Homo sapiens: one gene and its partners. The protein of the gene in region 3 purifies or fractionates together with the protein of the main gene of each other region. This does not show direct contact. Each region holds a gene or a part of one and is shown on either strand. Other genes may lie near its edges.

The links.
Region 1: the proteins of PTDSS1 (region 3) and PCYOX1 purify together in Homo sapiens (affinity purification with mass spectrometry; one large-scale study listed by BioGRID and IntAct). This does not show direct contact.
Region 2: the proteins of PTDSS1 (region 3) and ALDH1A1 purify together in Homo sapiens (affinity purification with mass spectrometry; one large-scale study listed by BioGRID and IntAct). This does not show direct contact.
Region 4: the proteins of PTDSS1 (region 3) and ASAH1 purify together in Homo sapiens (affinity purification with mass spectrometry; one large-scale study listed by BioGRID and IntAct). This does not show direct contact.
Region 5: the proteins of PTDSS1 (region 3) and NTHL1 purify together in Homo sapiens (affinity purification with mass spectrometry; one large-scale study listed by BioGRID and IntAct). This does not show direct contact.
Region 6: the proteins of PTDSS1 (region 3) and PADI3 purify together in Homo sapiens (affinity purification with mass spectrometry; one large-scale study listed by BioGRID and IntAct). This does not show direct contact.
Region 7: the proteins of PTDSS1 (region 3) and KSR2 purify together in Homo sapiens (co-immunoprecipitation; one large-scale study listed by IntAct). This does not show direct contact.

What each region holds. Positions count from the first base shown.
Region 1 is NC_000002.12:70,275,137-70,278,410, forward strand, and holds part of PCYOX1 (prenylcysteine oxidase 1 precursor), read left to right. Parts: coding exon 1-34; intron 35-377; coding exon 378-530; intron 531-1,597; coding exon 1,598-2,256; 3' UTR 2,257-3,274. UniProt on the Homo sapiens protein: Prenylcysteine oxidase that cleaves the thioether bond of prenyl-L-cysteines, such as farnesylcysteine and geranylgeranylcysteine. Only active against free prenylcysteines and not prenylcysteine residues within prenylated proteins or peptides.
Region 2 is NC_000009.12:72,911,554-72,915,053, reverse strand, and holds part of ALDH1A1 (aldehyde dehydrogenase 1A1), read left to right. Parts: intron 1-2,931; coding exon 2,932-3,096; intron 3,097-3,500. UniProt on the Homo sapiens protein: Cytosolic dehydrogenase that catalyzes the irreversible oxidation of a wide range of aldehydes to their corresponding carboxylic acid.
Region 3 is NC_000008.11:96,334,902-96,337,495, forward strand, and holds the end of PTDSS1 (phosphatidylserine synthase 1), read left to right. Parts: 3' UTR 1-2,094; downstream 2,095-2,594. UniProt on the Homo sapiens protein: Catalyzes a base-exchange reaction in which the polar head group of phosphatidylethanolamine (PE) or phosphatidylcholine (PC) is replaced by L-serine. Catalyzes mainly the conversion of phosphatidylcholine.
Region 4 is NC_000008.11:18,057,800-18,060,107, forward strand, and holds part of ASAH1 (acid ceramidase isoform a preproprotein), read right to left. Parts: intron 1,905-2,308; coding exon 1,773-1,904; intron 1,666-1,772; coding exon 1,542-1,665; intron 1,093-1,541; coding exon 1,036-1,092; intron 1-1,035. UniProt on the Homo sapiens protein: Lysosomal ceramidase that hydrolyzes sphingolipid ceramides into sphingosine and free fatty acids at acidic pH.
Region 5 is NC_000016.10:2,042,078-2,044,834, forward strand, and holds part of NTHL1 (endonuclease III-like protein 1), read right to left. Parts: intron 2,724-2,757; coding exon 2,553-2,723; intron 1,650-2,552; coding exon 1,490-1,649; intron 1-1,489. UniProt on the Homo sapiens protein: Bifunctional DNA N-glycosylase with associated apurinic/apyrimidinic (AP) lyase function that catalyzes the first step in base excision repair (BER), the primary repair pathway for the repair of oxidative DNA damage.
Region 6 is NC_000001.11:17,280,098-17,282,415, forward strand, and holds part of PADI3 (protein-arginine deiminase type-3), read left to right. Parts: intron 1-252; coding exon 253-332; intron 333-573; coding exon 574-699; intron 700-2,318. UniProt on the Homo sapiens protein: Catalyzes the deimination of arginine residues of proteins.
Region 7 is NC_000012.12:117,528,491-117,531,990, reverse strand, and holds part of KSR2 (kinase suppressor of Ras 2), read left to right. Parts: intron 1-283; coding exon 284-325; intron 326-977; coding exon 978-1,050; intron 1,051-2,933; coding exon of another isoform or gene 2,934-2,994; exon of another isoform or gene 2,995-3,445; intron 3,446-3,500. UniProt on the Homo sapiens protein: Location-regulated scaffold connecting MEK to RAF. Has very low protein kinase activity and can phosphorylate MAP2K1 at several Ser and Thr residues with very low efficiency (in vitro).

The DNA of each region.
Region 1 (3,274 bases), on a different chromosome or scaffold from region 3:
TATGGCCAAAGCACGGACATCAATGCCTTTGTGGGTAAGCCAGGGCTTGAAACAGTGGTGGACATTAGTTCACAGAGGGGCTTACCTGATGCTATGGTGGTTCCTGACTTTAGGCTGTGGATTGGAGGCTACTTTTCTCTGTGAACCTCAGACATTGTTAGCAAAATTGTGCGTATGTAGATGTGCATTTTTAGGGGGAGAGGGTCTTTAGCTTTCATTAGTTCAGTAATTCTTAACTGGGGGAGATTTTGCTCCCAGGGGCCATTTAGCAATGTCTAGAGACATTTGGAGTAGAACATGTAATTGGGAAGGGAGAGTGGGTAGAGAGCCTCTTACAAAAAGTCAGAATTAAAACACATTTTTCCTCCTATTGACAGGGGCGGTGTCACTGTCCTGTTCTGATTCTGGCCTTTGGGCAGTAGAAGGTGGCAATAAACTTGTTTGCTCAGGGCTTCTGCAGGCATCCAAAAGCAATCTTATATCTGGCTCAGTAATGTACATCGAGGAGAAAACAAAGACCAAGTACACAGGTAAGCTTGAATTTCTTATTGTTCCTGATATCCCCTGCAGAAAATGATTGCTCAGGGAGAAACACTTCTCTTCTGTCATCTCTTACTCAGTTCTAAAATGATGAAACTTGAAATTGTATATATTGTACCATATAGAAATATTCCCCAATGGGCCAGGCACGGTGGCTCATGCCTGTAATCCCTGTACTTTGGGAGGCCAAGGAGGGTGGATCACCTGAGGTCAGGAGATCAAGACTAGCCTGGCCAACATAGTTAAACCCTGTCTCTACTAAAAATACAAAAAATTAGCCGGGCGTGGTGGCAGGTGCCTGTAATCCCAGCTACTCGGGAGGCTGAGGCAGGAGAATCACATGAACCCAGGGGGCAGAGGTTGCAGTGAGCCAAGATCACACCACTGCACTCTAGCCTGGGTGACGGAGTGAGACTCCATCTAAAAAAAAAAAAAAAAAAAAAAAATTCCCCAGTGTAGTTAAGTGCTGTGGCATCACTCCTTGGATTTGAAAAATAATCTTTTTTTTTTTTGAGATGGAGTCTCGCTCTTTTGCCCAGGCCGGACTGTAGTGGCCTATCTCGGCTCACTGCAAGCTCCGCCTCCCGGGTTCACGCCATTCTCCTGCCTCAGCGTCCCGAGTAGCTGGGACTATAGGCGCCTGCCTCAGCGTCCCGAGTAGCTGGGACTATAGGCGCCTGCCACCGCGCTCGGCTAATTTTTTGTATTTTTAGTAGAGACGGGGTTTCACCATGTTAGCCAGGATGGTCTCGATCTCCTGACCTCGTGATCCACCCACCTCGGCCTCCCAAAGTGCTGAGATTACAGGTGTGAGCCACCATGCCCGGCCGAAAGATAATCTTACCTTCAAAAGTAAAAATTCTGTATTTTGTACTTACTGACATTCTGAATAAGAAATTGGCCTCAATGTAATAAAAATGCAAGGGACAACTATCTTAAGGGATATAACTTCTTCAATTCTTTAGAATTATAGAGAAATTATGAAGAAGGTATACAATTATTTTTAGAAGGTATGTTAGAAACACTAAACAAATATATGCCTCCTTATTTCCTCTAGGAAATCCAACAAAGATGTATGAAGTGGTCTACCAAATTGGAACTGAGACTCGTTCAGACTTCTATGACATCGTCTTGGTGGCCACTCCGTTGAATCGAAAAATGTCGAATATTACTTTTCTCAACTTTGATCCTCCAATTGAGGAATTCCATCAATATTATCAACATATAGTGACAACTTTAGTTAAGGGGGAATTGAATACATCTATCTTTAGCTCTAGACCCATAGATAAATTTGGCCTTAATACAGTTTTAACCACTGATAATTCAGATTTGTTCATTAACAGTATTGGGATTGTGCCCTCTGTGAGAGAAAAGGAAGATCCTGAGCCATCAACAGATGGAACATATGTTTGGAAGATCTTTTCCCAAGAAACTCTTACTAAAGCACAAATTTTAAAGCTCTTTCTGTCCTATGATTATGCTGTGAAGAAGCCATGGCTTGCATATCCTCACTATAAGCCCCCGGAGAAATGCCCCTCTATCATTCTCCATGATCGACTTTATTACCTCAATGGCATAGAGTGTGCAGCAAGTGCCATGGAGATGAGTGCCATTGCAGCCCACAACGCTGCACTCCTTGCCTATCACCGCTGGAACGGGCACACAGACATGATTGATCAGGATGGCTTATATGAGAAACTTAAAACTGAACTATGAAGTGACACACTCCTTTTTCCCCTCCTAGTTCCAAATGACTATCAGTGGCAAAAAAGAACAAAATCTGAGCAGAGATGATTTTGAACCAGATATTTTGCCATTATCATTGTTTAATAAAAGTAATCCCTGCTGGTCATAGGAAAACACACGGTTCTAATTAAGTGTGAAGGTATAGCTATTGCACTTATGCCATCTCCAAAATTTCTTAAGTATTCTTTCACTATCCATTAGGAGTTTTTCTTAAACTTGTCTGATAATAAGAATCACCTGGAGTTAGGAGGTGGTGGTTGCAGTGAGCCAATCTCACCATTGCACTTCAGCCTGAGCAACACGAGCAAAACTCCGTCTCAAAAGTAAATAAAAATAATCACCTGGAGTTTGTTAAACCATATGGATTCTCAAGCTCCTCTCTTGAAGATTCTGATTCAGTAGGTCTGGGAGTGGCGCGCTGGATTTTGATCAAAATTGTAGAGCATTTTAAGGTGAGTACCTGAGGGAGAACTTAAAGACATCTTAGTTGGGGAGTAGTCCTTTTGAATTTTACAGCTAGATATAATCTTCAGTCAGATAAAATTTATGGGAGCTGGTGTCTTATGCCTGACTCTTAGTAATTTCATACCGGTTTGAAGTACGTGTGCCCATGCCTAAAGCCTTGACTTTCAGAATGTTGTCTTTTGATTCTTCTGTCTTGATTTGATTAGGGGTGAAATTTAGAAGTCTTAGTAATGTAACTTGAAGATGTTAAACAAAAATCTCAAGTAAAATGAAAAGCAAATATGGGCTACTGAATTAAGAAACTGGCATTCTAGTATTAAATCCTCACTTCAGGAGCTTTTAAAAATACTGAGACCCCCCCATAACCAGAGATTCAGATTCAAAGACTGAGGATAGGACCTTAGCATTGTAGCTATTTAAAGTTTCTAATGTGCACCCAGGGTTGGGAATCACCAATGTGGGTGTGAAAATGCCTACAAAGGGTTTTAGTGCCTTAGAAGTCCTAAGAAGCCCAATCTGTATC
Region 2 (3,500 bases), on a different chromosome or scaffold from region 3:
AATTTGGAGAAACAAAAGACTAAAAAGCCCTGGGCTCCTTTACCATTAAATATTCATCTATTGTTAGGAGAAAAAACTTACGCAAAGGGGATACTCACTCACTAAGCTTTAGCCTATTGCCTCATCCAGGGGTGGTTGAGTGAACTGAGGCTTTTAAATACAATGATGGAATCTTCCTCATTAAATATAACATCAAAAAGGTTATAGAAAAAATAATGGTCAAAACGATTTGTTTTAGGGGAAAAAATTAAAGTTTAAAAAAATTTGAACATTACAAATTATTTGGGGGTTAGAGCAATTACAAAATATATATATATACTTTGCATATTTGTATTATATCTGTGGATTCATGTGTGTATCTTTTTCATATTTCAAGTGATTTTCCTATTTGACTTTATAGAAAAAATATATATTGTCTTAAACTTGGAAAAATTAGTATTTTCATTTGAAACAGAAATTGTGATAGCCACATAAACGATACTAAAATTATCACAGAGTAGCACCTTATAATAGTGTGGAAAGATGGACTTTGGAGTTACAGTTATATAGGATTTAAACTGGATTTAAAATCCAGCCTCCCTGAAACTATTGTCTTATGTGTAGAATGTGCATAGAAACCTCAATCTTGAAGAATAATTCTGCAGTGCAATTGGATAATCTATAAAATGTATCCATCAGAGTGCTTGGTCCACATGCTCAAATGTCTAGTAAATAAATAAAAATTACATGCTTCCATTTATACCCATGGTGACAATTATCATACAGATCAATTACTTCTATATCTATTCATTGCTTTTGTTGATACATGGTTTCTGAATAATTTGAGAACATGTAAGTGCTTTTTCCCAATTCATCTTCTTTAACCCATTAAGCCTAAGGAATCAAAGAATTTACCCATTCAAACACCTTAAAATGTTTCCTTTGAGACTGTTACCATATCATGACCTACCTAATACATTTCATAGACTAGCCCATAGGCCAATGGCCCATCACATGAAAGAGCCCCAGCTACATCCTAGCATTATTGGACAGTCCCAGGTGTCCAGAAAGAAGGTCAAGTTTATATATGGTCAGCCTGATGCCTTCTGAAGAAGGTCTGTATTTGTGGTGAATCAAAATTAGCCAGACAAAACTGACCAGTCTCTAAGTAGAGCCTAATTTTTTGTTTGTAGTCCCAAGCTCCACCACAGTGTTCCTCAATCTTTCCTGTGCCCGGGGATTCAGTAGATCTGAGGTGGGGTCAAAGAAGCACATTTGGCTACCAAGTGATGCCACAACTGCTGGTTGTAGGACCACATTGTCGGTAGCAAGGCACTGAAATACAAAGGCCTGTAGTTTTATAAGTTAGCGACCATCTAAGTTTTCCAACAAATAAGGCTTTTCAGCCCTTTTCTCCAGTATGTATGCAGGGATTTGATTGGCACTGGTTATTCAACGTGGTCACAGACAGGAAAACATGACTTGGGAAATACATCTTGAAATAAAAACCAGATATCATGATGTTGAGGGCATAGTCAGATTAATATGTTCCAATAAGACAGAAAGCTTTATGTGGAGTGACATGGACCCTTGACTATTTATTGAGAAACTAGAATACCTTACCCAGGCAGAATTTATCTCACCCCACCCCTTAGTCTGCTACTATTCAACCTATGTAGTAATTTAAATATTTCTTCTTAACACTATTTTTTTCTTAATCTGCTGGAAATGAAGGAATATTTTCCTTCTGGGATATTATATTAAATATTGCACTAAAGACTGTTGAGCAACATTGTACCAAATATTGTGCCAAATTTTAGAAAATAGTTTCTAGTTTCAAATAGTGCTTAATCTAGTTAGATATGGGGGCTGAGCTGTATTCAGTTAGAAATAACTTTATGGAAGCTTTTTCTTGGCTTTGGAAGATAAAGAAGATTTGCAGAGTCAGAGAAGAGTAAGAGAAAGTGAAACATAAAACTTTTCAAGTAGTGGGAAGTTAAACCTACAAGAGCTTCCACCCTCCAACCCATCTTAGCTCCTAGATCTCCTGTTTTTCCTTTAATCCTTAACCCCTGCTACACCTGAGATAGGCAGCCCTCACCGGTTACTTGGAATCCAAGAGTCACCCAGTTATTCAATGTCACAAAATAGAAATTGAGACAAAAATTAGCCCCAGATTTCAGTGCTTGAAGAGGTACGTGTTCCTGGTGTTCACAACCAGAACTCCAAACTCATTTATTTTCCTTATAAAAATAGTGTTTAAATAAAGACGATTTAAGTTCTGTAATACTTGGCACATAGTTAGATGTGGCTCATTTAATGAAGCAGGATGGTGACATTCAGGACAGGCCAGAAATTGGAAGCAGATTTACTGACTGCCCCAGTGGGACCAGAACTGGGAAGGGTGCGCAGACTATGGTCAGAATGGGATATCCAAGGGCATCGGACAGGTCAGAGTGGGTGATTCAGAAATGGGGAGATCAAACAGAGGCTCGGGAGTCTTCTAAGAACAGTCTTAAAGCATCTGCTTCCCAACAGATCTAATTAAACTCAGTATCAAAGTTCTGTTTTTCTCTTTTCCCTCCTTTCATTTCAGCCGGGACAATAGTTTCCAGGTAAATGTATTTAGATTAACAGGCATTTCTTCCAGAGTGAATAAATGATGATTGTCATTTATGTGTTTTTTATGTGTTTGCAGTGCTGAATGCTTTCCTATATAACTATAAAACAAATGTTAAATACAAATATCTGTCTTCAAGAGATTTTCCCCTAAAAGTCATGAGAAGAAAATATATCCAAAGAATGAATCTGAACCTCTGTTAGCTGTTTCGATTCAATATTTGGTTTAATTGCAATATTTTAGCATTTTGAAGCCCTTGTTAACAGGCCCAGCAATGTGTTATCTTTACAAGTGACTACTTTTTTTCTTTTCATGTGATATTTTTCAAATAGATTGACAAGGAACAATATGATAAAATACTTGACCTCATTGAGAGTGGGAAGAAAGAAGGGGCCAAACTGGAATGTGGAGGAGGCCCGTGGGGGAATAAAGGCTACTTTGTCCAGCCCACAGTGTTCTCTAATGTTACAGATGAGATGCGCATTGCCAAAGAGGAGGTAAATGGCTTCATTCTGTTCTGTTCTTTTTGTTGCCATGTTTTGTCTGTTTGTGTGTATACAAAGTGTCACTTTAAAATTCCCAGCTCTTTGGAACATCTTTCCCTCTAAACCTTACTCTTTATTCTGTTCTTGATAGAGGTTTAAGTTATTTGTGATAGATACTAAAAAGTAGTAAGGGATCCATGGGGCCAGCCACAAATGTTCAGCCAACACAGATCTGGATGCTTAACAATTTTCAGGTGCTGCCTTCACAGCTTTAAAACAATGGAAAAGAATCCTGTCATTTGCAGCAACAACCTGGAAAATTTATGCTCCATGAAATATGACAGGCATAAAAAGACAAATACCGCAGGGTCTCACTTTTATGTGGGATCTCAAAGAGTAGAACTCATAGAAGCAGA
Region 3 (2,594 bases):
AAGGTTCGTTCTGATGTTTCTTCTTCTTTAAGGAAATCTTTAGCCATAGAAGTGTCACTTTTTTTTTTTCTGCAAAAGAATTCCAAGATGAACGGGTTGAATGAATCATGCCAGCCAGGGTCACATCCTGTCCTCAGGGGGCCCAGTGCTCAATAGTAGATTCTGCGGGAGTGGAGAAGCGTCAGTGGCAGCTCCGCTCACTTGGTGAGTGAGGGATTTGGCTGTGATGAGCCTCAGCTCCGAGCTCTCAAATGTCCTCCAGCCAGCATCTGCCTGCTTCCCACAAAAGGATAGAAGAGAGGCAAAGTGCGTGTTTCATAAAACCTGCCTGCACTTTTATAACCCATCAAAGAGGCCATTTTTAAACACAGGTACAATTTAAACATGATCTTTCTTTGCAAATAAATATGTTTTGTTTCATCCTGTGTTCTGCTTTTCTAAGCATGACATACTTGTGCCCATTGGAGAAGACACCTGTCTCTTCTTTCTCACACCGGTGGTGCCTCACTGAGTGTTTCCGGGTTCATTTTCCGGGAGCACTGGGCCTGACACTTTCACACTCTTCTGACTTTCGCCTTGTTGCAACTGATGGAGCATGTGTGCTTCCTCTGAGGCCAGCCTACAGGAGGCAGCTGTTTCGCAGGTGGTGAATTCGACTTTACTGTGGCATTGTGAAGAGCAGGGTGCACAGGAGATGATTTTTTCTCCATGGCTTTGTAAGAAACAGCCAGGAAAGTTCTCAGATACTTTCCATGCCCTTTCTTTGAGTTGAAACTTTCTATTTCCCTTCAGTCAGAGCTCTTTACTATAGTAGTTACAAAACCAGTGCTTTCCATGGCTGGCCAGAACCACAGCTGCTATTCCTTTTAGAAGCCATACTGCTGGGTTTGGCCTACTTTTTTCACCGTTTCTATGGAAATAAACCTCACATTGATGGAAATAGAATGCGTGTTTCAGAATCATCATTCAATATCTGAAATGATTTGATTGTAAATTATCTCATGGTCCCTGTTTGCAAACCACCCTCTTAAGAGAGAACATTGTTTTGGACCTAAAGCTTGAAGAACGGTTTATGTATTTTTCTCCTTAAGTAGCATTGCATTGAGTGTTAGGTTCTTTTCCCTTTTTTTCATTCTTGGTCTTCCCAAAGCTTCTTCCCACATTTCGTTTGTGTCTGTTTCCACCATTCATAGAAACCTTGGAACCACTCTCACAGCAATGCTAGGATGTTTCATGGACCTGTTAAGCATTTTGATGATACAAGACATCCTATCAATGCCAGTCTTATTTTCGCTAGGACTCTGCTTCCACAGTAAGCTCCTAAGGTGCTCACCCAACCCAGGAGAAAACAAAATTCATTACCAAATACAACAGGTTCAGCCTTCTTGGTCTTCCCTCAGAAGCCACCGTGTAGCACCCTGGAATGATGCCTCTTTATGCCAAGGCCCACCCTTTGGAATTGGGAGGGTTTTGGGTAGAATCCTGCACTTACAGAGGCCCTTGGGGTCATTGAGAAGTGGAGGAGGTTGGACACAGAAGGGGAGGCTAAACACAAGGTGGGGAAGAAAAAATGTAACCATTGGCAGCCAGACTGAAGCTAGCCCTTTAAAATACGGGGTTGGGGGGTTAACATCCGCTCTTTGGAATGTGCTCAGTGACTGCTGCAGAGTTCCTGGGCCACCCTAATGTTTACCAGGTGGGCGTTGTTTATATGGTTCTTATTGTTATGACAACTAGAAATCCCACAGTAGACTAGACAGTGCTCCCTACCATTTCCCATTTATAGGATTGAAATCAAGATGTAAGGAGAGCTGGCCGGGCGCAGGGCTCACGCCTGTAATCCCAGCACTTTGGGAGGCTGAGGTGGGTGGATCGCCTGAGGTCAGGAGTTTGAGACCAGCCTGACCAATATGGTGAAACCCTGTCTCTGCTGAAAATACTTAAATTAGCCGGGCATGGTGGCAGGCACCTGTAGTCCCAGCTACTCGGGAGACAGAGACAGAAGAAATGCTTGAACCCAGGAGGTGGAGGTTCCAGTGAGCCGAGATCACGCCACCGCACTCTCTAACCTGGGCGACAGAGCGAGACTATCTCAAAAAAAAAAAAAAAAAAAAAAAAAAACTGTAAGGCGAGCTAAGACGTCTGTCTATCAGTGTTCCATTACATAATACACCTCTTTCCTTCACATGTGTGTGCACATTCTCAGGATTATATTAGAGATTTGATTCTTTGCAAGGGTCAGTATCAGTAATGGCTGAGACTGGTGGGCTGCAGTCATGTTGCTATGCCGTAAGAGGTTTTTACAACATTTCCCCTTATCACACTTTATTCTAACCTGATGATGGGCCTATCTCAGGTGAAGATTGCAATAGTTTCCTTAATTGAACTTTGGTATTTGATGCATTAAATAAATATGGCTTTTTAATTTTGCTATCTTCTGTGAATTTAAAGGAATTATTTCATTGATGTCTACCAAAGAAGATAAAAAAACAGTTGGATGTGAAATTTTTTTAGGTTGTGGGAATGCTACGTTGTAAAAATCTTCCTTTTCTTCCATGTTCACTAAAAAATGCCTTTAGTCCATTTCAGAAAGT
Region 4 (2,308 bases), about 78 Mb from region 3:
TCATATAAAATTAGCTAAAGTCTCACCAAATAACTAAAGCAAACAACTTCAACAGGATCACTGTTTCAGGTAATGAATATAAACAGGCTCAGGAAAGAATCTCCAGCTCCTTATAGGAGCTTATTCCTGACAGCACATTGCTCCACCCCCAATGCTTTAAGACTGCCTTAACCCTCCTTGACGCACAGCTGGCAGTCCTGGGAGACCTGCCGGTGTCCTATGGAGTAAAAACCGTGGAGCTTTGGCTATCCCTATCCTTAAAGCATTTCCAATACAGTGGGGGAAACTGCAGGCACCCAGATCACAAGGCACACACCCAAACACAAGTCACGAGATTGTGACTTGCTCAAAGATGGTATAGGCAAAACGCAAGTATGGCAGGGCCCGTGAACTGAAGGCAGGCTTCCTGTGAGAGCCAGGGTGACCTGGATGCTAAAGGCCGGAGGGATTTGTCCTGGCAGGGTAAAGGCGGCATGTTTACTTTAGGGAGAGCTGTGGAGAAGGACCAAGAAAAGAAGGAACAAATGGGAAAATTAGGGGGGCATATTCAGAACGTTCAGGGAATGATTGTTAGCGAGTGGTGGGATGATAGGAAACTTTTTGCATTTTTTTAAAACTACAGTGTAGGGAAAAGATAAACAGATGTAGTAAAGTTTAAGGGAAACCCGAACCCACCAAGACACAGAGCTCTGTCTGAAAATGGACTGCAGACTTTGTTTTGTTGACATTTAGGTGTTAGTTATATAGTGTGAGATTTTTAATAGATACCAATAAGAGTAAAATGCTAGCCTTAATTCAAATGCTATGTAAATAAAGCTATAAACAATATTCTGACCTATCAAGCCTCAGTGATCAATTTCTTTCTTGTATTCCAAAATACAGTTTTAGCCACACAAAAACATTTTTTAATAAAAAATCAGTCCTAAGCTGAACACACCTTTTGTGCTCAAACTGATCAAAGATAACAGAGAAAGATAAAACATAGGGCCAAATTCTTTCCCTAAAAGGCAAATATACATATAACATTTAAAATACCTTGTTGAGGACAGGTTTTGTTGACAGGACATCATACATGGTTTCAAATGAGATATTCTAAAACACAAGAAAATAGTTTTGTTCAGTAAGTTAAATACAGAAGCCAACAGCCTTATCTACACACATGGGCCACCAGAAACCAAGACATTCTTTAATCAACCTCCCCTCCATCCCCGCAGTGGAGTTTCTGTGGGAGTCACTGTTAGAAACACAGGTAACAGTTTTAATGGATTACTTTCCTCTCTCTCCTTCCCCTTTTTTAAATTCTTGCCTGTTTGTTATTCAACTTCAGAGTGGTATCCAGCATTAGAACCAGAAAAGGAAAGTACAGCACAATTTTGCTCTTTAAGTTAAGAAAACGAAACAAAAAAATCAGTGGAGAGTGGCTAGAGATACTATGAAAAATAGGACGTTTATAAATTACTTGAAGGCCAAAGAAAAATGCCAGAACCAAGGGAATCTTTAATGGCAACAGTTTCTTTCTATAGATGACCCTGCAAAGGTACCTCTTGGCTGGTGCGGTTCAGACACATCTTTGCAGGCGTTCTGCGATCATCAAGGAAGAAGGGATGTTTCCAACGGTCATAATTTGTTTGTACCACATACCATCTACCCTGCTTAGCATCGAGTCTAGATACAAAAGGAGAGATTCCCTCTTAGGCTACATGCCTTAAAACTCAAAGTATATCAGTGTATGCTTTTGTTTCTACTTCTTTTGCTTTAACAAACCTACTTACTCATATACATCCAATGATTCCTTTCTGTCTCGTGTAATCACACAACCTTCCCCAGACTGGTTGCCTCCCAGGATAAAGTAGGCTGGGGCCAATATCTTGGTCTTGGTCAATAAATTCTTGGCTTCTTCATAACTATATAGAAACATTTAAAAAGAAAAATGAAACTTTTTTTTAATTTTAGTAAATAACTTCATTTATTTTTAAATTTTACTTTAAGTTCTGGGACACATGTGCTGAACGTGCAGGTTTGTTACATAGGTACACACGTGCCATGGTGGTTTGCTGCACCCATCAACCCATCATCTAAGTTTCAAGCCCTACATGCATTAGGTATTTGTCCTAATGCTCTCCCTCCCCTTTCACCCCACCCCCTGACAGGCCCTGGTGCGTGATGTTCCCCTCCCTGTGTTCACGTGTTCTCTTTGTTCAGCTCTCACTTATGAGTGAGAACATGCAGTGTTCGGTTTTCTGTTCCTGTGTTAGTTTGCTGAGGATGATGGTGGGAAACATTTTTAGATGACTTAGAACGGAAATGT
Region 5 (2,757 bases), on a different chromosome or scaffold from region 3:
TTTCTCTTTCGGGGAACCCCTAGGAGGCAGCCCTGGGGTCTCCTTGCAGGTGGTCAGGCCCACAGACACCTGGAGAGGGAGGTATTTCCACATGGCTGTCTCTTGTGCCCGCTGCTCCCAAAGCCCGTTCCCTGCCTGGCTGCGGGCAGGGACCTTCCCCCACAGCCCTGCCCAACCACGATGCAGCACCCCAGGGACACGGGCAGCTGAGGACAGCCGCCCAGATAAGCTCAAGTGTCCACTGAGAGGCTGGCAGGTGGTGACGCTGGGAGTCTCAGTCGGGAGGAGGCCCTGCCCCGGCGCACCTGGCCTGGCTCTGGCTCTTTGGGGCTGCTGTGGCTGTTCAGCCTCACCAGGTGGCCCCGGCTCAGAATAGAGGCCCCCGGCCCTTGGTGGCCCTCTTGCCCACCAGAAAGTGCTGCAAGCCCCCCGCCTCCGGCACAGGCCCCCTGCAGGAGTCCCAAAGGGGCCTGGGATGGGGGCACACAGAGGGCAGGGCCAAGCCCTGGTTTCTGGACTGGCTGGGCCCGGCTGCGTGTGGCCTTAGGAGCCCCAAATCCTCTGGACAAAGCCGAGGAGGAGGCAGCCCCACCCCAAACCCAGGGGTCTGTCTGCACCCAACTGCCAAGAAGCCTCCGGTGCTAGGAAGAGACACCAGGACCTGGGAAAAGGATTCAAGGAGGGCCCTCCCCCCAGTGCCTCCCTCCCCACCCTCCCCTCTTCTCCCTCTCAACCCTCCCCTCTTCTCCCCGCAGCACCTCCCTCTCCACCCTCCCCCCATCCTCCCAGCGCCTCCCTCCCCACCCTCCTCCCCCATTCCCCCAGCGCCTCCCTCCCTACCATTCCCCTCCTGTCCCCGCAGAGCCTCCCTCCCCACCCTCCCCCTTTCTCCCCCCAGCACCTCCCTCCCCACCCCACCTGCTGAGGGGATACTCTTCCTCCTCCCTCCTCAGTCCTTACCTCCCCACTCTGCCCTCATCTCATTCCAGAACTTCCTGCTCCTGGCCCTCTCTCTCGCATCATGGTTTTACAGATGCTGTTCCTTCTGCTGGGAACACACTTCCTCCTCTTGGCCTGGCTCACCCCACCTTGCTCTGCAGCTCTCAGGTGAAGGATGACCTTGGGGGCCTTCCCAGAGGCCCTGGGCCCAAGCCAGGCCCCAAGAGCACCCTGCACAACCATCAGGGTTTCCACTCCACGAGTGGGGAATTCCTCGCTCCACATTTCTCCCGAATACAACGCAGATGGAGTCCAGCTCCGGGGCCTCTCTCAGAGCCCTGCACGGAGCAGGTGCTCAGCCCATGTGACCTCCTGCCCCAGCACCTGTCTCTGAGTGGGGCTGGCCTGGCTCCACCCTGGGAGCACCTTTCTGACTCTATGGGCTGGGTGGAGGACCAGCATGCTGGAAGTGGAGTCACAGGTCACAAGGATGTGGGGAATCCCAAGAGCAGCCAGTGGGCTGGAGCCAGCCCCGCCCTCCTCTACTCACCAATGCCTGACACAGTGCCCCAGGCCACAGCCATAGCCAGGTGTGCCATCTTGGGCCCAACACCCGGCAGCGCCACCAGCTCGGCCACAGAGGCTGGGATGTCCCCACCGTAGTGCTGCTGCAGGATGGCGCTGGTCTGCTTGATGTATTTCACCTTGCTCTGAAAGACAGGGGTGGGTTCAGCCTTGGAGGCAAGGGCACAGCCCAACCTGGGAGGATGCAGCCCCCAGGAGACCCACAGGTGGCCAGAGCTACCTGCACCTGCTGAGGACGTGTGCAAGCTCAGCCCCCGCCCCCCAGGAGGCGGGAACAAGCGGAGGGCAGCAGGGAGGCCCAAGGTAGGCCTGACCCCCTCCTCCCACCCGTGTGGGCCAATGATGCACGTGTAGGCTCTGGCTGGGGTTCCCCTGCCCGTCATTCCCTGCCAGCACCCAGGCCAGGCCAAGCAGGCCAGCCGCTCCCAGGAGTGGGGCTTGGCTGCACCTGCGCCTTCAGGAAGGAGGGCTGGAGCTGGGGCTTCCCCACCAGCTGCCAGGCCTGCCGGGTGGTTCCCATCCTGTGCCTGAGTGGAGAGGGCTATTTAAAACCCATCTGAGAAACTGCGGCCCACGCGGGTGCCAAGGGGAAGCGGCCCCACCCACCAAGCTGCTTTCAACAGATCCGCCCACCACCATCCAGTGCTCGGCGGGGTTGGGGAGCAGCCTCCCCAGGGCTCCTGGAGGGTGAGGGGCTCTGGACAGGAGGGGGTGACACACCGGGAGAGGCTAGCAGTAAACAAAGGGAAAGGCGGGTGGGCAGGCAGCCTTGGCGGTGAGGAAGGGTGGGCAGGCGGCGAGGCGGGGAAGCAGAGGAAGGAAGGGAGGATGCGAACAGGAAGGCCAAGGAGCTGCTGGGACTGGGCGTCAGGCCTCAGGGCCCCACGGCCTGGGGGGGGCTTCAGGGGGACCCCCCGAGCCTGAGATGCTTGACCCTCACTTCCTGCACCGTCGCCACCCCCCTCAGCCTTCTGAGGTCTCTCTCAGGCCACTGCCACCCGGCCCCCGTTGCCACAGGCAGGGCTCACCCTCCAGAAACCGACGGGGTAGATGAGCTTGCCCAGCGTGGCATCATCTGTCTGCAGGATGCTGTCCACCGTCAGGCCCCGCGCCCGCAGTCGCTGCATGGCGCCCGCCGTCACCTGGTCTTTGGTTTGGCTGGAGAGCATCAGTGACAGCAGCACCTGGTACCTGCGTACCTGCTTGTGCAGTGACAGGGACCGGGGTGGCGGC
Region 6 (2,318 bases), on a different chromosome or scaffold from region 3:
AACTCAAATAAAGGTCTCAGTTCATTCCACTGTGGCAACCAGACCCTCCCACTCCTTATACCCCAAGATGTGCACAGTGGCCAAGGCAAGCTCAGACAGGTGGAACCCACCCAAGGCCTGGGAAAGTCAGAGGCTGCTGACTCGGCAAGACCATTAGCTGTGAACTTGGCTCCTGCCTGTCTGCTTCCCTAAGCAGGTGGTCCTCACGTTGGTGCTGTCCCTGTCCTTCTCTTTCATCTCTCTCCTTCACAGATGATGAGCAGGTCAAGACCATCTCCATCAACCAGGTGCTCTCCAATAAAGACCTCATCAACTACAATAAGTTTGTGCAGGTACAAGGGCTGTGGTGTACCTGTGGGCTGTGATTTGGGAGTAGGCGGGGCTGGAGGCAAGGATGGGATACAGACATCTGAGGCTAACTGTTCATGAAAGCTCAGGTTAGAACAGGCCCAGACAGAGGGGTCCCAACACCCTCTTTTGACCCAGAAGAAGTGAGGGGAGCGACAGGATGCCTTGGTGCCCCCAAAACACACTGGCAAGGTGTCCCCAACTCTGGCCCTCCCCTGCCCCCAGAGCTGCATCGACTGGAACCGTGAGGTGCTGAAGCGGGAGCTGGGCCTGGCAGAGTGTGACATCATTGACATCCCACAGCTCTTCAAGACCGAGAGGAAAAAAGCAACGGCCTTCTTCCCTGACTTGGTGAGGGCACTACCCATGACTCCTTTGCCAAATCAGGCTGCAAACCTCTAAGCTCGAGAGAGGAAAAATGTCTGGTCACAGTCATATTTAGGATTGTGGTGGCCAGTGGGGGTGGCAGGGAGAATCAGGGGTCCTATGGTGCTCCTCAGAAGGGCTTCTAGCTGGCTGACCACCATGGTCCCTGTGGAATGCTTGCTGGCCAAGCCCTGGCCCAAGGGGCATCAGGGAAGGGGTCCACTTGACATTTGTGGAGTGAATGAATGATTGCATGAGGTCACGTGTGCAAAGCACATGGCATCAGCTGGGAACCCAGATGCTCATTCTGCTCTCTTCCTCCCAGCTTGTGGCTCTTCATCCATCCCACATGTATTTAGGGTGTCCTGTGGCAGATGCAGAGATGATTAAGAATGCCCCCTGCTCTCAAGGGACTTTCAGTCTAATCGGTTGAGAGGGAAACTCTTCCCTTCTCTGAGGACATGTCCCAGTGATCTATTTTGTAGGATAAGGCGATGTGGCAGTTTGGAGGTGAGACAAAGCACTTCCAGCCTAAGAGGTAGAACTGGAGATCCAGGAAGTCTTCATGGAAGAAGTGGCTTTTGACTGAGCCTTGAGGGCTTTGCCTCTGATGCTTGTAAATCTTTTTTTCTTTTTTTCTTTTTTTTTTTTTGAGACGGAGTCTCACTCTGTTGCCCAGGCTGGAGGGCAGTGGCACAATCTCACTCACTGCAACCTCAGCCTCCAGGGTTCAAGCGATTCTCCTGCCTCAGCCTCCTGAGTAGCTGGGATTGTGGGATTGCAGGCGTGCACCACCACGCCCGGCTAATTTCTGTATTTTTAGTAGAGATGGAGTTTTGCCATGTTGGCCAGGCTGGTCTTGAGCTCCTGACCTCCGGTGATCCACCAGCCTCGGCCTCCCAAAGTGCTGGGATTACAGGCGGAAGCCACCGTGCTTGGCCTGCTTCTAAATCTTGAGCTTGCCTTTGAAACACCTGGACAGGTGGGGCCCCACCCCAGCGGTCCTGATTCAGCAGGTCTAAAGCACGGCCCGAGGCACTGCTGCCGCGCTAACAAACACCCAGGTGGTGCTGATGCTGCCTTTTAGAGGAACACAGTTTGAGTAGCACTGCTATAGGTCACCCAGCTCCCCTCTCCACTCCTCCCCACCTCATCCCCTAAAAGAACTCAATTTGCCCATTGTCAGAGCCTTGTGGGGAACCTGTCCACACCACCATTGCTTCATGCCCCGCTTTTTCCTTCCTCTTTTCAGGCAACATTTTGCCCTCCGCTTGCAAAGCCTCTTTTCACTCCCCTTCCTTCCTGTTCGAGGCTATCTTGTAATTATATATGTGCCCCAAGAAGTTTGTGCAATGATTCAGGTTCTTGTGTTCGCAAGAGACAGAGTCCTACTGAAGCCAGCTTCAGCCAGAGGGAGTCTTAATATAAGGACACCAGAAACCTGAGGGCAGGATAGCTGCAGCAGAGCCTGGAACCCTCTCTGTTTCTGTGTCTACATCATTCATTCTCTCTCTTTCTCTCACCCTCTCCACCTCCTACTTCTTCTCCCTCTTCTTCCAGCTTGGCTTCCTTTGCTTCTCTGTTCCTGGGGACAAAGATGAGTA
Region 7 (3,500 bases), on a different chromosome or scaffold from region 3:
CATTTCACAAAAATGGTATTGTAGTCAGAATGTCTGTTTGAGTTGGAGCAGTCTGATTTTAGGGAGTGTGAGATGTCAGATGGGAGGGTCGGCATGGATGTTTAGAGTTCTGGTTTCTTTACACATGTTTGCAGTCCCTTGTCTGCAGGGATGTCTGCAGAAGTATGGAAACTCTTGAAGGTGGGCAGAGAATGACCATGTGGTGGCTGTAAGAGCTCAATCTGGTCCCTGAAGCGATGTCTCCCTGGGGACACTCACTTTGATGTTTTCTTTCTTTTGCAAGCATCCCACTACTACAAATACAAGCAGCAGTTCATCTTCCCAGGTGAGTTTCATGTGAGCTGGAAGCAGCCCCTTCTGAACAAGCCCCGCTGCATTGCAGGAGTTTCTGGGATGAATGGAGGCAGATGTTGTGGGGGTGCCTAAGATCAAAGAGGGTAGTGGAGTCACCACACTCCAGGATAATGGCTGAACATGGAAGTGGAGAAGAAAGAGTGGGCACAGTGGGACCCAAGGAGGTCCCAAGGCACCGTGGAAAGGCCTGAGAGGGTGGAGTGCTGTAGAACACTGGGCGAGGGTGAGGAGGGGTCTAGAGCCATGTGGCAGGAAAGAGATGGTCATAGGGTCCTGAGCTGGGTACTGAGAGGATGTGAAACCAAGGGGCTTTATCATCCCAAAGGGAACCCAGGAGAAAGAAAGATTCAGAGATGACCAATGAATGCTTCAGGCTAGATATTTGAGGGTTCTGGCAGCCCCCTATTCAACAATGAGGAATTTTGTTGAGGATGTCATCCAGAACCCTGGTCCAGCTGAGCAGGTAGAGTCCAGGTGGTCCAGGAAAGGAGAAAGGAGATTGGCCAAGGGCAGAGATCCAAGATCTGGTGAAAAATTGGCTGCCATGTCGCCCAGGAATCAGGCCTTTGCGGGGGTTGTGGACTTCACATTTTTTTTCTGAGTGTTCAATCTCTGGTTTTCAGATGTGGTGCCGGTGCCGGAGACGCCGACCCGGGCGCCCCAGGTCATCCTGCATCCGGTGACCTCGAATCCAATGTAAGTGAGACAGAGACATCTTCCCCCTTTCCCAAGCTTCCCAGCCCTGGCCCTACAATCCACTCAGGTTCCCTATCTTCTTTCCTTCTCTTCCTGGAACTGATGGAGTTGGGGGCAGAGGGAGATGTACAAGGGGGTCAGAGAGACATAGGGAATAACTTAGGCAAAGAGAAAGGGCGTGACAGCTCAGACAGAGAGATGGAGAGAGAGGCAATGCTGTTCCTCACGAGCAGCTATGCCTTGTGTCTCTGACCCTGCCTGTCAAATGCAATTTCCAGGGGCTGGACCGTTTCCTAAGGACCCATAACCTCCCTGTGATTAGGAAGAAAACTTTCCCCGGGTGATAGCTAGTACTTAATGAAAGGGCAATTATTCCATGTCACTGAACATGGAATAACTTTCAAAAGTCTCATTGAGGTTTATGGAATCAGCAAACTATAGCCCATGGGACAGATCCAACCTCCTGCTTGTTTTTATTTAAAGTTTTATTGGAACACAGCCATGCCTATTTGTTTACAATGTATTGTGCATGGTTGCTTTCTCCATGCAGCAGCAGAATCGAGTAGTTGTAACATAATCTGTATGGCTTGCAAAGCCAAAAATATTTACTCTATGACCCTTTGCAGAAAGAAATTTGCTAACCTCTGGTTTATATTATTATAAAAATAATATAAGCTAATTTTGGAAAATGTGGGCTATTCTTTAAAAAGGGAAAGGCAAAATAATCACTCATGATCTCACCACTGTTAAAACTTCTATGTGTGTTCTTTCCATTTATATTTTACATAGTTATGACCCACAATATATGCAAGCAGCTACCATCCTGCTTTGTTATCTTTATGCCAAACATCACATTTTATGAATATTATTTTAGCCTCTCCATAGACATTGTTGGTTTTTGTTTTTTGTTTGTTTGTTTTGAGACAGAGTCTCACTCTGTCACCCAGGCTGCAATGCAGTGGTGCAATCACGGTTCACTGCAGCCTCAGCCTCCTGGGCTCAAATGATCCTCCCAGCTCAGCCTCCCGAGTAGCTGGGATTACAGGTGTGTGCCACCACACCCAACTAATTTTTGTATTTTTTTTTTAATTTTTTATTTTTGTAGAGACAGGGATTCACCATGTTGCCTAGGTGGGTCTCAAACTCCTAGGTGCAAGTGATCATTCCACCTCAGCCTCCCAAAGTGCTGGGATTACAGGCATGAGCCACTGCACCTGTCTGATATTGTTTTTAATGGGTGTAAAATGACATATTGATGTAGAATAATTTTCTTAACCATTTTCCTATTGCTGGATTTTACATTGCTTCCCATATTTCATTGTTGTAAATAATGCTGCAATGAACATCTTTGTGCATAGCATCCTTAGGAAACAGACCCTCTTTTCAGGTGGTTTATTGCTTGTGCAGCAGAAGTGAAGTCACCTTGGCCAGGCGCAGTGGCTCATGCCTGTAATCCCAGCACTTTGGGAGGGCAAGGTAGGAGGATCACCTGAGGTCAGGAGTTGGAGACCAGCCTAGCCAACCTGGTGAAACCCCGTCTATATTAAAAATACAAACATTAGTCAGGCGTGGTGGCACACAACTGTAATCGCAGCTACTTGGGAGGCTGAGGCAGGAGAATTGCTTGAACCCAGGAGGTGGAGGTTCAGTGAGGTGGGATTGTGCCACTGCACCCCAGCCTGGGCAACAGAGGGAGACTCTGTCTAAAGAAGAAAAAAGTGATGTCACAAAGTCACCTCCTTAACTTCTTTGGTTGCGATGGAAGCCTGGGGCTTGCTAGGATTTGACCAGTTTCCTAACTCACCTTTGTGCCTACTTAGTTTTTCTTCTGGGTCCCCTAACTGCTTCATCTTTTCTGACTGGTCTTATGGACTTTGTTAAAGACTTACATGGTACATCTCTGAAATCAAAGGAGCAGCAACTTGCCGGGGGATATGGTGCTGACATCTAGCTCGAGATCATTTCTCTGCTTCACATAAACCAATTCTACAATTTGTGCAAGATGAACTCCAGGTTATTAACTGACAGTCCAGAGGTACCAGCGAAAAACAGAGTCAATAGCTGCTTGCGATCTGCTTAAATGTGCGCGGAGTGATGACAACTCTTTGCAGAAGGAAATACTTGAATAGCCCTGGCTGCTGGAATCACGCCTTGATGCAGAGAGGAGGGTGGCCTGTTTTGGTTTTGGGCATGAGGAGGGACTCCAGCTGCATTGTCCCAGCCAAGTCTCCCCCAGGGCATCAAGTTCTCAGCATGTCAGCTGTCATCGTGCAGGTTCATTCCACTTTCCCAGGCTGTGCTATGAATAATTGGTTAATACCATGGCGAATGCCACTTTGTGGTTGACCTTTCTTTCTCCTTCTTTTAGTTCTTGTGGTCTTTCAGACTCTTTCACCAGGACCCCCTCCAGCAAGTGGATTGACTCTGTGGAGTCAGCCACTTCCTGCAAT